Homo sapiens: one gene and its partners. The protein of the gene in region 2 purifies or fractionates together with the protein of the main gene of each other region. This does not show direct contact. Each region holds a gene or a part of one and is shown on either strand. Other genes may lie near its edges. The genes, in order: PPP2R1B, TRIM35 and KDM5C.

Region 1 (3,749 bases), on a different chromosome or scaffold from region 2:
ATATTGTTTTCATTTTTATCCCTCAACTTTCTGTTATAGTAAGGCTTTGAAGGCATCATTAAAATGTTTTTTTTTTCTTTTTTACTTAATTTTAAAATTTTCATTTCCTTTATAGAAACTCTGCATTCTAGCCAAGGTAATTACTTTGCTGTTTACTCATAGTACAAAGTCATTTCTATCTTTATGACTTTGACATGCCATTCCAGGCAAAGGGAGCAGCTCTTTCTTTTTTTTTTTTTCCTTTTTGTTTTTTGAGACAGAGTGTCACTCTGTCGCCCAGACTGGAGTGCAGTGGTGCAGTCTCGGCTCACTGCAAGCTCCGCCTGCTGGGTTCACGCCATTCGCCTGCCTCAGCCTCCCGAGTAGCTGGGACTACAGGCACCCGCCACCACGCCTGGCTAATTTTTTTTGTATTTTTAGTAGAGATGGGGTTTCACCGTGTTAGCTAGGATGGTTTCCCTCTCCTGACCTCGTGATCCGCCTGCCTCAGCCTCCCAGAGTGCTGGTATTACAGACGTGAGCCACTGGGCCCGGCCGGGAGCAGCTCTTTCAAGATATAAATACACGGCCAGGCGCAGTGGCTCGCGCTTGTAATCCCAGCACCCAGCACTTTGGGAGGCCGAGGCAGGTGGATCATTTGAGGTCAGGAGTTTGAAACCAGGCTGGCCAACGTGGTGAAACTCTGTCTCTACTAAAAATACAAAAATTAGCTGGGCGTGGTGGCTCCTGCCTGTAATCCCAGCTACTCGGGAGGCTGAGGCAGGAGAATCACTTGAGCCTGGGAGGCGGATGTTGGAATGAGCGGAGATTGTGCCACTGCACTCCAATCTGGGTGACAGAGTGAGACCCTGCCTCAAAAAAAAAAAAAAAAAGAAAAAGATGTCAAGACGTGAAACTATATAAGGTGTGGCAGTCTTGGTGGTGTTAATTTTTTTAAACACCTGCACCACCCCACAGCAGTTCCCCATGGGTCTCAGTAAATGTCTGAATTACAGAAATTTTGTTCCTTTAGGATTCAGTGCGCCTCCTTGCTGTGGAAGCTTGTGTCAGTATTGCCCAGTTATTGTCTCAGGATGACCTTGAGACTTTGGTGATGCCTACACTTCGACAAGCAGCAGAAGATAAATCTTGGCGCGTTCGCTATATGGTGGCTGACAGATTTTCAGAGGTAAAGTGATCATTTTTAAGTACTAAGGAAATAAACCTGAAAACACATAGATTTGCTGTTGTACCCAAAGTTTCTGAATTAATTCTTTTCAATGGGAAGTGCTGTGGCAAAAATATGTATTTACAGATTGCACAATTTTGTTTTGTTCTTGTTAATTCTTTTGTTAGTATACATTAAAACCCGTTCAAATTCTTTTATAGCTCCAGAAAGCCATGGGTCCTAAAATCACCCTAAATGACCTCATCCCCGCCTTTCAGAACCTACTTAAAGACTGTGAAGCTGAAGTCCGGGCAGCTGCTGCCCACAAAGTAAAAGGTTAAGGAGTTCAATTTATGTTGGAACATGTGTCATTCATTTTGGTGCATTTTTTTGTTAGTCAATTTTGCATGTTTTTTGTTCTAGAATATGTTTTTAAAATACATAGGGATGTTTTTAGTGTGTGGAAATGTTACATTGTCACTTAAAGATAGTCTCTTTATATTTAAAACCAAGAAATCATTTTGTCTTGTTTTTGTAAAAAAAAAAATGCCTTTCAGGTTGGATTGGTGTGATATGCAATGGCATAGAGAGTTCACGAAAAAGTTTATTTAGAACAAGAGCTGTTTTCCTTATTTGCTTAAACATATAATTTAATTGAAATTATTGATAAACCTGGTTAAATGTCCTCATTTGGCTCTTTGTAAATGGCCCTGTGAAAGCATTCTTTTTTTCTATTTATCTTTTAGAACTTGGTGAGAACTTGCCCATTGAAGATAGAGAGACCATAATTATGAATCAAATTCTGCCTTATATAAAGGTAAACCTGACTTTATTTTGTTTCACTCTCTTTTATATGAAGGTAAACCTTAATCTCATTATTTTTGTTTGTTTGTTTACCTTAAAGCTCTTTGAGTTTAAAGGTTGACAGGGAATGAATGGGGAAGATGTGTTAATGTGCAACATTGTTATTCATCACTTATTAGCCCATTGTAATTGTAAACTGCTCTTTGGTGCATAGGTTTATGTTACCTAACAAGTAGTCTGAGGAAACATTATCAACTAATCAGTATTGAAATAGTGCTGTCTTTAAATTCCTTGGGGTCAGGCATGGTGGTACATGCCTGTAATCCAAGCACTTTGGGACGCTGAGGTGGGAGGATTTCTTGAGCCCAGGAGTTTGAGACCAGCCTGGGCAACATAGTGAGACCCCATTGCTACAAAAAATACAAAAATTAGTTGAGCCTGGTGGCATGCACCTGTAGTACCAGCTACTTGGGAGTCTGAGGTGGGAGGATTGCTTGAGCCCAGGAGGTTGAGATGGCAGTGAGCTATGATCATGCCACTGTACTCCAGCCTAGGTGACAGGGTGAGACACTGTCTCAAAAAAAAAAAAATTAGGCCAGGCGTGGTGGCTCACACCTGTAATCCCAGCGCTTTGAGAGGCCAAGGTAAGAGGATTGCATGAACCCAGGAGTTCAAGACCAGCCCTGGCAATGTAGTAAGAACCTGTCTCTGCAAAAAATGAAAAAAATTAGCCAGGCCTGGTGGTGCATGTCTGTAGACCCAGCTACTCTGGAGGCTGAAGTGCTTGAGCCTGGGAGGGTGAGGCTGCAGTGAGCCAAGGTCATGCCACTGCACTCCAGCCTGGGCAACAGAGCAAGACTCTGTTTCCCAGAATAATGGTATGGAAGTTTCTGTTGTCTTGTAATAAAGGCTTTTAATTTCGATTTTATTTTAGGAATTAGTATCCGATACCAATCAACATGTCAAATCGGCTCTAGCTTCTGTAATTATGGGATTGTCTACTATTTTGGGCAAAGAAAATACCATTGAACATCTTCTACCTCTTTTCTTAGCTCAGTTAAAGGATGAGGTGGGTCTTGCTTTATGTTCTGTTGCCTTTGATAGTAATTTGATTTTATTTGATTTTGGTTTAGGGTTTCATTAAAATAGAACCCCCAAAAAGAAAATGGATAAAAAAATCATAACTTATTTTAAACCAATGACACCTGTGATTTTGGGTATGGGGTTATAGGTTCCTCAGAAAGTGGGCAAAAGTACCCATTAGAGTAAACCTAGAAATATCTGTTTATCATCTTTACCTGATTTTTGCTTTATACTCCCTGGTTTCTTTAAAGCTAATGTGTCTTTGTTTAAAAAGTTTCATTTATTTAAGTTTAAATATAGTATCAAAAATTATAATGATACCTAATATTTACTGAGTAATTACTACATGGCAAGCATGAGCCTTAGTGCTTTGCATGTATTTTTACATGCAATTCTCACAACAATCCTGTGAGGTAGGTCTTATTATTATCCCTTTTTGTTTGTTTGTTTGTTTGTTTTGTTTTTTGAGACGGAGTCTTGCTCTGTCGCCCAGGCTGGAGTGCAGTGGCGCAATCTCTGCTCACTGCAAGCTCCGCCTCCTGAGTTGATGCCATTCTCTTGCCTCAGCCTCCTGAGTAGCTGGGACTACAGGCGCCTGCCACAGCACCCAGCTAATTTTTTGTATTTTTAGTAGAGACGGGGTTTCACTGTGGTCTCGATCTCCTGACCTCGTGATCTGCCCGTCTCGGCCTCCCAAAGTGCTGGGATTACAGGT
Region 2 (3,749 bases):
GCTAGATGCTTTTCAGTGTTCACACGTCAACAAATTTAATGCTCACAAAAACGTATTTTCAGGTCCTGTGTTTCCTGTTACTGCGTAATAAATGTGGTGGTTTAAAATAGCACAAGTTTGTTCTCTTATGGTTCTGGAGGTTGGAAGTCCTAAAATCGAGGTGTCTGCAGGGCTACATTCCTTTTGGAGGCTCCAGGGAGAATTTATTTCCTTGCCTTCTCCAGCTTGCAGAGGCCCCTTCTTCCAGCTCTGAAGTGTGTCATTCCGTTCTGCATCTGTTGTCACTTTGACTTCTTTGACCAGTTCTACTACCTCCCTCTCATAAGGACCCTGTGATGACATTGGGCCCACCCAGGTAATCCAGGATAACCTCCCCACAGCAAGATCCTTAATTTAATCATCTGCACAGTCCCTTTTGCCATACAAGATTCTGGGGATTAGAATGGGGACATCTTTTCGGGGAAATAATTATTCAGCTTGCTACAGTTAGGTGCTATTATCCCCATTTTATAGACAATTATAGAATCATAGAGAGGGTAAGAAACTTGTCCAAAGTCACAGAGCAAGTAGCTCTAAAGATCACCTGGAGCCTTGTTCAGTTCACACACTGGTCCTGGACTTTGAGAGAGGTTTCTCTCATCTCAGACTTCAGCGGGCAGCTGACTGTGTGTTAGGGGTTGGAGTGGCTGTTGACCATTGTCAGGGCTGGCAGAAGGTACTGGTTGTGTGCCAGTACTGTGTCCAGGACAGGACCGGACAGTCCTAGACCTTGCCTTTGTGGGCATGGTTGTATCATCTCACTAATAATTACATAGTTTCAGCTCAACATTCCTGTGAAGGACAGTACAGGATGTGGTGGGAGATTGTAAGGGGGAGGCTGCTCTTGTTTGGTGGGGTGTGGGAAGGAGTCTCCAAGGAAGTGATTTCGCTGAGAGGAGCTGATTGAGGGGCGGCGAGCAGTGTGTGTGTGTGGCGGGGGTGTGGCGGCGGGGCACAGCGTGGGGGTGTGCAGTGACTGAGAGATGGTTCACGTGGGGATGAGGAACTGCAGGACAGATCCCACAGGACACAGAGGGCCCTGCTTAGGAGCTGGGATTTTTATCGTAGGTGCAGTGGCGCATGATGGAAGGACTGATGAGATTTGGGAGCCTGGCATCATGTTTACAGCAGAGCTGTAGCAAGGAACAGTGCTTGGAAGGACCTTCAGAAATCCTAGTCTGGCGTTTCTCAAACTTGAACAAGTATGCATTCTTCTTAAAGGAAAAAATAGTCTAGCCAGTGAGAGTTAAATTATGTTATTATTTACATGCATACAAATGCAAACCTGGTATAAATAGCACTTGCTCATGCTACATATAAGCAATAAAACAAAAGGAAGTGAACAGACTGAATACAAAACTATAATCAATAACATTCCACTTAAAATATTAATTCTAAAGTTTTATTTTGCTGGAACAAAATCTCTACTCCTGGCCAAGATACTTCTGATTCTCCCATTACTCTGTTCCAAGTGACTACTTAATCCGCCCAAATTTCTCTGAAGAGCTCTGGAGCTTTCTTGTTACGGGATTGGCCTTCATTTGGGTCCGGCACATTCTTTACCTGCTATGTGTATTTCTCTTCTTTCCTTATCAGGACAAGACGATGAAAGTCATGTCTTGATATCAAGTAAGCTGTTAAGAAAATATGAATGGTGGCCGGGTGTGGTGGCTCATGCCTGTAATCCCAGCACTTTGGGAGGCCGAGGCAGGCAGATCACGAGGTCAGGAGTTCGAGACCAGCCTGGCCAGTATGGTGAAACCCCATCTCTACTAAAAATGCAAAAATTAACCAGGCATGGTGGCAGGTACCTGTAGTCCCAGCTACTTGGGAGGCTGAGGCAGGAGAATCGCTTAAACCCGGGAGATGGAGGTTGCAGTGAGCCGAGATCGTGCCACTGCCCTCCAGCCTGTACGACAGAGCAAGACACTGTCTCAAAAAAAAAAAAAAGAAAGAAAAAAAGAAAATACGAATGCTGATGATGAAGTTGTGAACTGAAAGCATGTGTCAGCGCTGTTTATGTCGTGGCTTGGAGTAGGATTGTCTTAGGTTTGGTTTAGGTTGCCATTAAATGAAAACATCCTCAGACACAGACCGTGCGTCATTCTATTGTGATGGAATGGTTACATCTTGTGAGGAGGTGGTTACATCTAAGTAATGAGAAGTGGATCAAGGCCAGTGTGTTTCATGCCTGTAATCCCAGTGCTTGGGGAGGCTGAGGCAGGAGGATTGCTTGAGGCCAGTAGTTCAAGATCCTGCACCAAAGAAGAAAAAAATTAGCCGGGTGTGGTGGCACATACCTGTAGTCCCAGCTACTCGAGGGGCTGAGATGGGAGGATTGCTTGAGGCCAGGCATTCGAGGGTGCAGTGAGCTATGACTGGGCCACTGCATCCAGCCTGGGCAACAGTGTGAGACCCTGTATCTTACATAAATAAATAAATAAAGTTCTAGGATCAGAACTCAGGTTTCCTGCCTCCCAGTCCAGCACTCTCCAGCTTGCATCTTCTACAGCAGCCCTGTGCTGAGCTGCCTTGTGCAGACCCTTGTCTTATCCATCTTGCAGGACTGGCATGATGACCATTCTTTGCCACCAGCCTCTCCCTGTCCCAGCTCCAGCCCTCTCTCCCCTTCTGGCGTCAACATCTTAGAGTCCATCTGGCTGGATCTAACCCAAGGGTACTCTCGATACCTCTTAAGCCACATTCCAGGTCTTCCCCCTTCCAATGCTTTTCCCCATTTCCTAACCACTCACCCCCATCCTGATCCCCAGCTTCTAGGTGAGGACTTACCAGCTCTTTGGTTGCACCAGAGGACATTGTTGCTTGCTTGCTTGTCCAGGCCTGTGCCCAGTGGTATTGGGAGTGGGGGGTGTCTCACTAGACCCTGCACACTGAGGCTCCTGAGTGATGGCCTCCAGCAGTGGGCTGCATGGCAGACACTTGCTTTGGAAGGAGGTCTGAACACAAAGGGGAAAGACAGATCTGGGAGACTGATTTGGAGTTGCATAAGAAAGCTCCATGCATTTTTACTGTTCATTTAAGAAACCTGGACCATATCCAGCAGGACAGTTAGGTTACCTGGCATGTAGGTGGCACTTAAGAGCTATGCCGAATGCACAGCATGTGCCTGCCACTCTCATGTAAGCATCTTATAGGGATTGATTTGTGGAGTCCTCACAGCAGTCCTTTGAGCTTGGTAGTATTTTTTATCCCTCTTATCCAGATGAGGAAATGGAGGTGCAGAGAAGTGAAGGAACATGTTCAAGATCACCTGCTACTAGGTAGAGGTGCTGGGATTTGAACCTGGTCGGCCAGGTGCCAGAACTCTTGGCTGCTACATCAATCTGCCTGAAAACAAATCGTGAAATTTGGGAGACTGTAGAGACTTCTCTGCTTTCATTTTTAAGGTGAGGAGCCTGATAGCCGAAGAGAGAAGGAACTTTTTACCAACTCACCAGTGGATAGTGACAAAGACAAGGCTCCAAACCAGCTCTCCTAACCTTCAGTCCAGGAGGCAAGGTATATAGCAGAAAAAACACAGGCATTCCATGTACTCATTGACTGGGCAGGTGGTTAACTGAACATCTACTTTGTGCAGGGACTTGGACATGCAGGGGACAAAACAAAGTCTCTCACCTTGCAGAGCAAGCATTCCTTCTGCAGAAGTGTACCGAGCACCACTATGCAAGGTAGAGAGGACCTGGAGGTTA
Region 3 (3,749 bases), on a different chromosome or scaffold from region 2:
CTCTGAAAAATGGGATTATGATAATGCTTATCTTTTTGGATAGTTGATTGTATTAAAGATAATGTTTGCTTAGTGACTGACCCATGGCAGGTACTGGTATAGCAGCTATTTATCATTATTTACATGACCTAGCAAAATAGACTGGCATATGAAACCTCACTGCTGATTATCTAGGTGACTGTATCAAGTTACTTGATCTTTCATATCTCACTTTCCTACTCTAAAGTGGGAATAAATACCTAACTTGCAAGATGTAAGGTTAGAGTAAGGTGATTTATATGAAAGCCATCTCTCTAACATTGCCTTTGCAATGTTGCAGCTGCTATTATTGGTAATGTTAATACATGAAGAAACTGATTGAAATTTGGAATGTTTCTCAGGAATTGCCATTTTATTACATGCAGATGGTTTATTAACTCCAGCTAGGGCAATAATATTACCAAGCTGAAGGTGGTCCTGCTTTAATTGATTTCTTGTAAGCTTGTGTCAGTTGTGTGTGTAGCTGAGTGGAAGCTGCTACAGAGCTCTAAAGTCCACTCGTGTAGTTTCAGCCATCATCTTCAAATTTCACACTTGCCCAGTTAGGGAATTGACTTTGTGAGAGTCTTTCATAAGATTACAAAGGAGTGCTGGTTCTGTGGGATCCCTTGCTGCCTATCTAGGGTAATACTTTCTTATTTTAAAGCTCATTTATAGCTTTCCTGTGAGTGTGGGCTATAGGGAGAACTATAGCTACAGTAGTGTTGGAAGTCTGGGGCCTCTCAGTCGTGGTGTAAGTTGTTGAGTCCCTGGGCTTTTCCAGGCATCATTTTCTCACTCTGTTCAGTACTGTTATTAAATGATGGCCGTGTGGCTGTGCCAAGCTGTGGGAAGGAGCCAAAGCAAGGTGGGGAGAATAGACCTTCTCATCTTGACATTCAGAATTCTTCACACTTGGCCCTTACCTCAGAGAAGCATTCTGGACACCATAGTCTTGGAATCCTGTAAGAGATTGTATGTGTATTTAAGTATGTTTCTGGGAAGAGGACTTATAGTTTACATCCAATTCTCAGGAGTCTGTAGTCCAAAAAAACCCTAGAGACTTCATCCTTAGAATATTCTCTGGCTTTAGAGTCAAAATTAACTCAGTTTGGCAAGTTACTGACCCTGAGACTTAGTTTCTGCCTTAGTAAAATGAGATAGGCCTGTGGAATATATATTCTTATCTGAAAATTAGAGCTAATAACAGTAAATATTTGATGAACACTGAATCTAAGTGCTGAGATACTTGTCTGATTCCATAGCTGCTTTATTTTTGTTAATCCTCATAACAACCCAACAAGGATGATACTGTTTATCTCCATCTTACTAGATAATGAAACAGACCCAGAGACGTTAAATGATTTACTCATGATCACACAGCATATAAGTGGCAGAGTGGGATTTGGGCTCATAACTTATGCAGAGATTAGGTGTTAAAGTTGGTATGTAAGACAAAAACTGTTAAGAGTTGACATTTCCCATTAAAATCCCTAAAATTGCCCATTAGATATACACACTGGGTTGTCTCTCGATTACTCCAATATAGCCAGCTTTTCCTTCATTTTTGAAATGGATTGCTTTTTCTTTATCTGAGCAACAGATGAAGTCATTGGATTAGGTTTGGAAACCATATTGTTGGGAGAAAATTATTATATCTCTTTAAACCCTGAACACAAGCACATACGGTTGAATTTCTCTAAGTTATATATGTGCACAAGTATCTCCTGCCTACTAAGTGGCCAGCGTGGTGCCTGGAACACAGTGGGCTCTGAGTAACTGGAAGCCGATATTGTTCCCCAGTACACATAACTAGCCAGGCCTGTCCCTTGGCCACTTGCACTCATTGCCACCTCTCTGGTATCTTGGTCCACCACTTTCCTCACTTCTCACCCACAAGACCCTTTCTGCTGATCTGGATCTTACCTGATTTTTCTTCCTCTATAAAATTATCTGACTCAGCGCACACTGATCTTGCCCTGGTTTATCTGATTCCCCAAGCTTTGAGAGTCTAGACTTTACAAAGGGCAGGTATGCTCCCTGGGGTTTGGCCTCTTAAACCCCATGACCCTCAGCATAGATTTGAATCTAAAGTAGGGGTCGGTGGTGGCTGAGATGGAGGATTTTGCTACCTGGTTCTGGTTATATATAACGCATAGGTTAAATGCCCTTAGGGTATCACAGAGGCTGAGCGAGAGGCTTTCGAGCTGCTCCCAGATGATGAGCGCCAGTGTATCAAGTGCAAGACTACGTGTTTCCTGTCAGCCCTGGCCTGCTACGACTGCCCAGACGGCCTTGTCTGCCTTTCCCACATCAATGATCTCTGCAAGTGCTCCAGTAGCCGGCAGTACCTGCGGTGAGCATGGGCCTTTCTGGAGGAAGTGGGGCAAGAAGGAGGATGGAGAGCTGGGCCAGACATGCTCTTGCCTGCCCTCTTCCTCCAGGTATCGGTATACCTTGGATGAGCTTCCTGCCATGCTGCATAAGCTGAAGGTTCGGGCTGAGTCCTTTGACACCTGGGCCAACAAAGTGCGAGTGGCCCTGGAGGTGGAGGATGGGCGGAAGCGCAGTGAGTGATGGGGGGGATGGAGGGACTCCACAGGCAAGTTCTATTCCCTTTCTTCTGTACTCTGACCCCCTTCCTCTGCCTCTATTCAATACTGCCTACTCTTTGCTGCCCTCATTTTTCTTCCAGGCCTTGAAGAACTGAGGGCACTAGAGTCTGAAGCCCGTGAGCGGAGGTTTCCTAATAGTGAGCTGCTGCAGCAACTAAAGAACTGCCTGAGTGAGGCAGAGGCTTGCGTGTCCCGAGCTCTGGGACTGGTCAGCGGCCAGGAAGCTGGGTATGACAGCGTGAGGAGTTAGGGCACACATAAGGTGCTGAGGATCCAGCACCGAGGAAAAGTGCTGCAAGGGGTAGACTGTGAATACCATTTGGCAGAATGGACATCAGCAGGAAGCTGCCAGGCACAAGAGTGTGAGATGGCCTGGAAGGTGTTGGGGGGGACAAGGAGACCAGGCCACCTAAAAAGGAGAGGAGAGCCTCTGTGATAAGAAAGCTAGAAGTGTTTATTTTTTATCAGTACCTGGAAGTGGCCTGAGAGAGAGGCTGAGGGGTTTTGTGGGCAGGGAAGAGTTGTGGGAGGCTTACGGGTAAGAACAGGACAAAGATGTATAGACCTGATCCCTGCTAACACAGCTTTAGAGTTCACAGTAGAGGATGGATTGCAAAGTGTAGCTCTTATTACAACCCATTAGTTTCTAATTCTTTCCCCTCATAATATGAACATGCTCTATAATTTAAAACCTTCCCTCTAACCTGGGCAATTGGGGCAAATTTGAAATATGCGAGATCAAGGTGGACAGGTGTAGTGAGGAAAGGTGTTCAGTCTTAGCATAGACATGGAGGGAAGGCACTGAGTTTGGACCTGAAACCTCACATGTGATACTTCATAGCCCCCACAGGGTGGCTGGTCTACAGATGACCCTGACTGAGCTCCGGGCCTTTCTGGACCAGATGAACAACCTGCCTTGCGCCATGCACCAGATTGGGGATGTCAAGGTGAGGACGCTTGGAGTGCTGATGAGGGATCAAGGGGACCAGGGGACCTGAGCAGCAGGCCATGCTTGGCTCCTTTCAAAAGCTTAAAGTGTTCAGGCAAGACAGGACACACGTGTGAGAAAAGAACAGGTGGGAGGGGTGAGGCAAGGGTCTAGTGACTTGTCTGTTA

The links.
Region 1: the proteins of TRIM35 (region 2) and PPP2R1B purify together in Homo sapiens (affinity purification with mass spectrometry; 2 studies listed by BioGRID and IntAct, with this or other methods). This does not show direct contact.
Region 3: the proteins of TRIM35 (region 2) and KDM5C purify together in Homo sapiens (affinity purification with mass spectrometry; 2 studies listed by BioGRID and IntAct, with this or other methods). This does not show direct contact.

The regions. Positions count from the first base shown.
Region 1 is NC_000011.10:111,752,714-111,756,462, reverse strand, and holds part of PPP2R1B (serine/threonine-protein phosphatase 2A 65 kDa regulatory subunit A beta isoform), read left to right. Parts: intron 1-1,012; coding exon 1,013-1,168; intron 1,169-1,368; coding exon 1,369-1,483; intron 1,484-1,893; coding exon 1,894-1,964; intron 1,965-2,885; coding exon 2,886-3,020; intron 3,021-3,749. UniProt on the Homo sapiens protein: The PR65 subunit of protein phosphatase 2A serves as a scaffolding molecule to coordinate the assembly of the catalytic subunit and a variable regulatory B subunit.
Region 2 is NC_000008.11:27,304,570-27,308,318, reverse strand, and holds part of TRIM35 (E3 ubiquitin-protein ligase TRIM35), read left to right. Parts: intron 1-3,475; exon of another isoform or gene 3,476-3,558; intron 3,559-3,749. UniProt on the Homo sapiens protein: E3 ubiquitin-protein ligase that participates in multiple biological processes including cell death, glucose metabolism, and in particular, the innate immune response.
Region 3 is NC_000023.11:53,197,602-53,201,350, reverse strand, and holds part of KDM5C (lysine-specific demethylase 5C), read left to right. Parts: intron 1-2,192; coding exon 2,193-2,374; intron 2,375-2,405; exon of another isoform or gene 2,406-2,462; coding exon 2,463-2,587; intron 2,588-2,713; coding exon 2,714-2,861; intron 2,862-3,474; coding exon 3,475-3,580; intron 3,581-3,749. UniProt on the Homo sapiens protein: Histone demethylase that specifically demethylates 'Lys-4' of histone H3, thereby playing a central role in histone code. Does not demethylate histone H3 'Lys-9', H3 'Lys-27', H3 'Lys-36', H3 'Lys-79' or H4 'Lys-20'.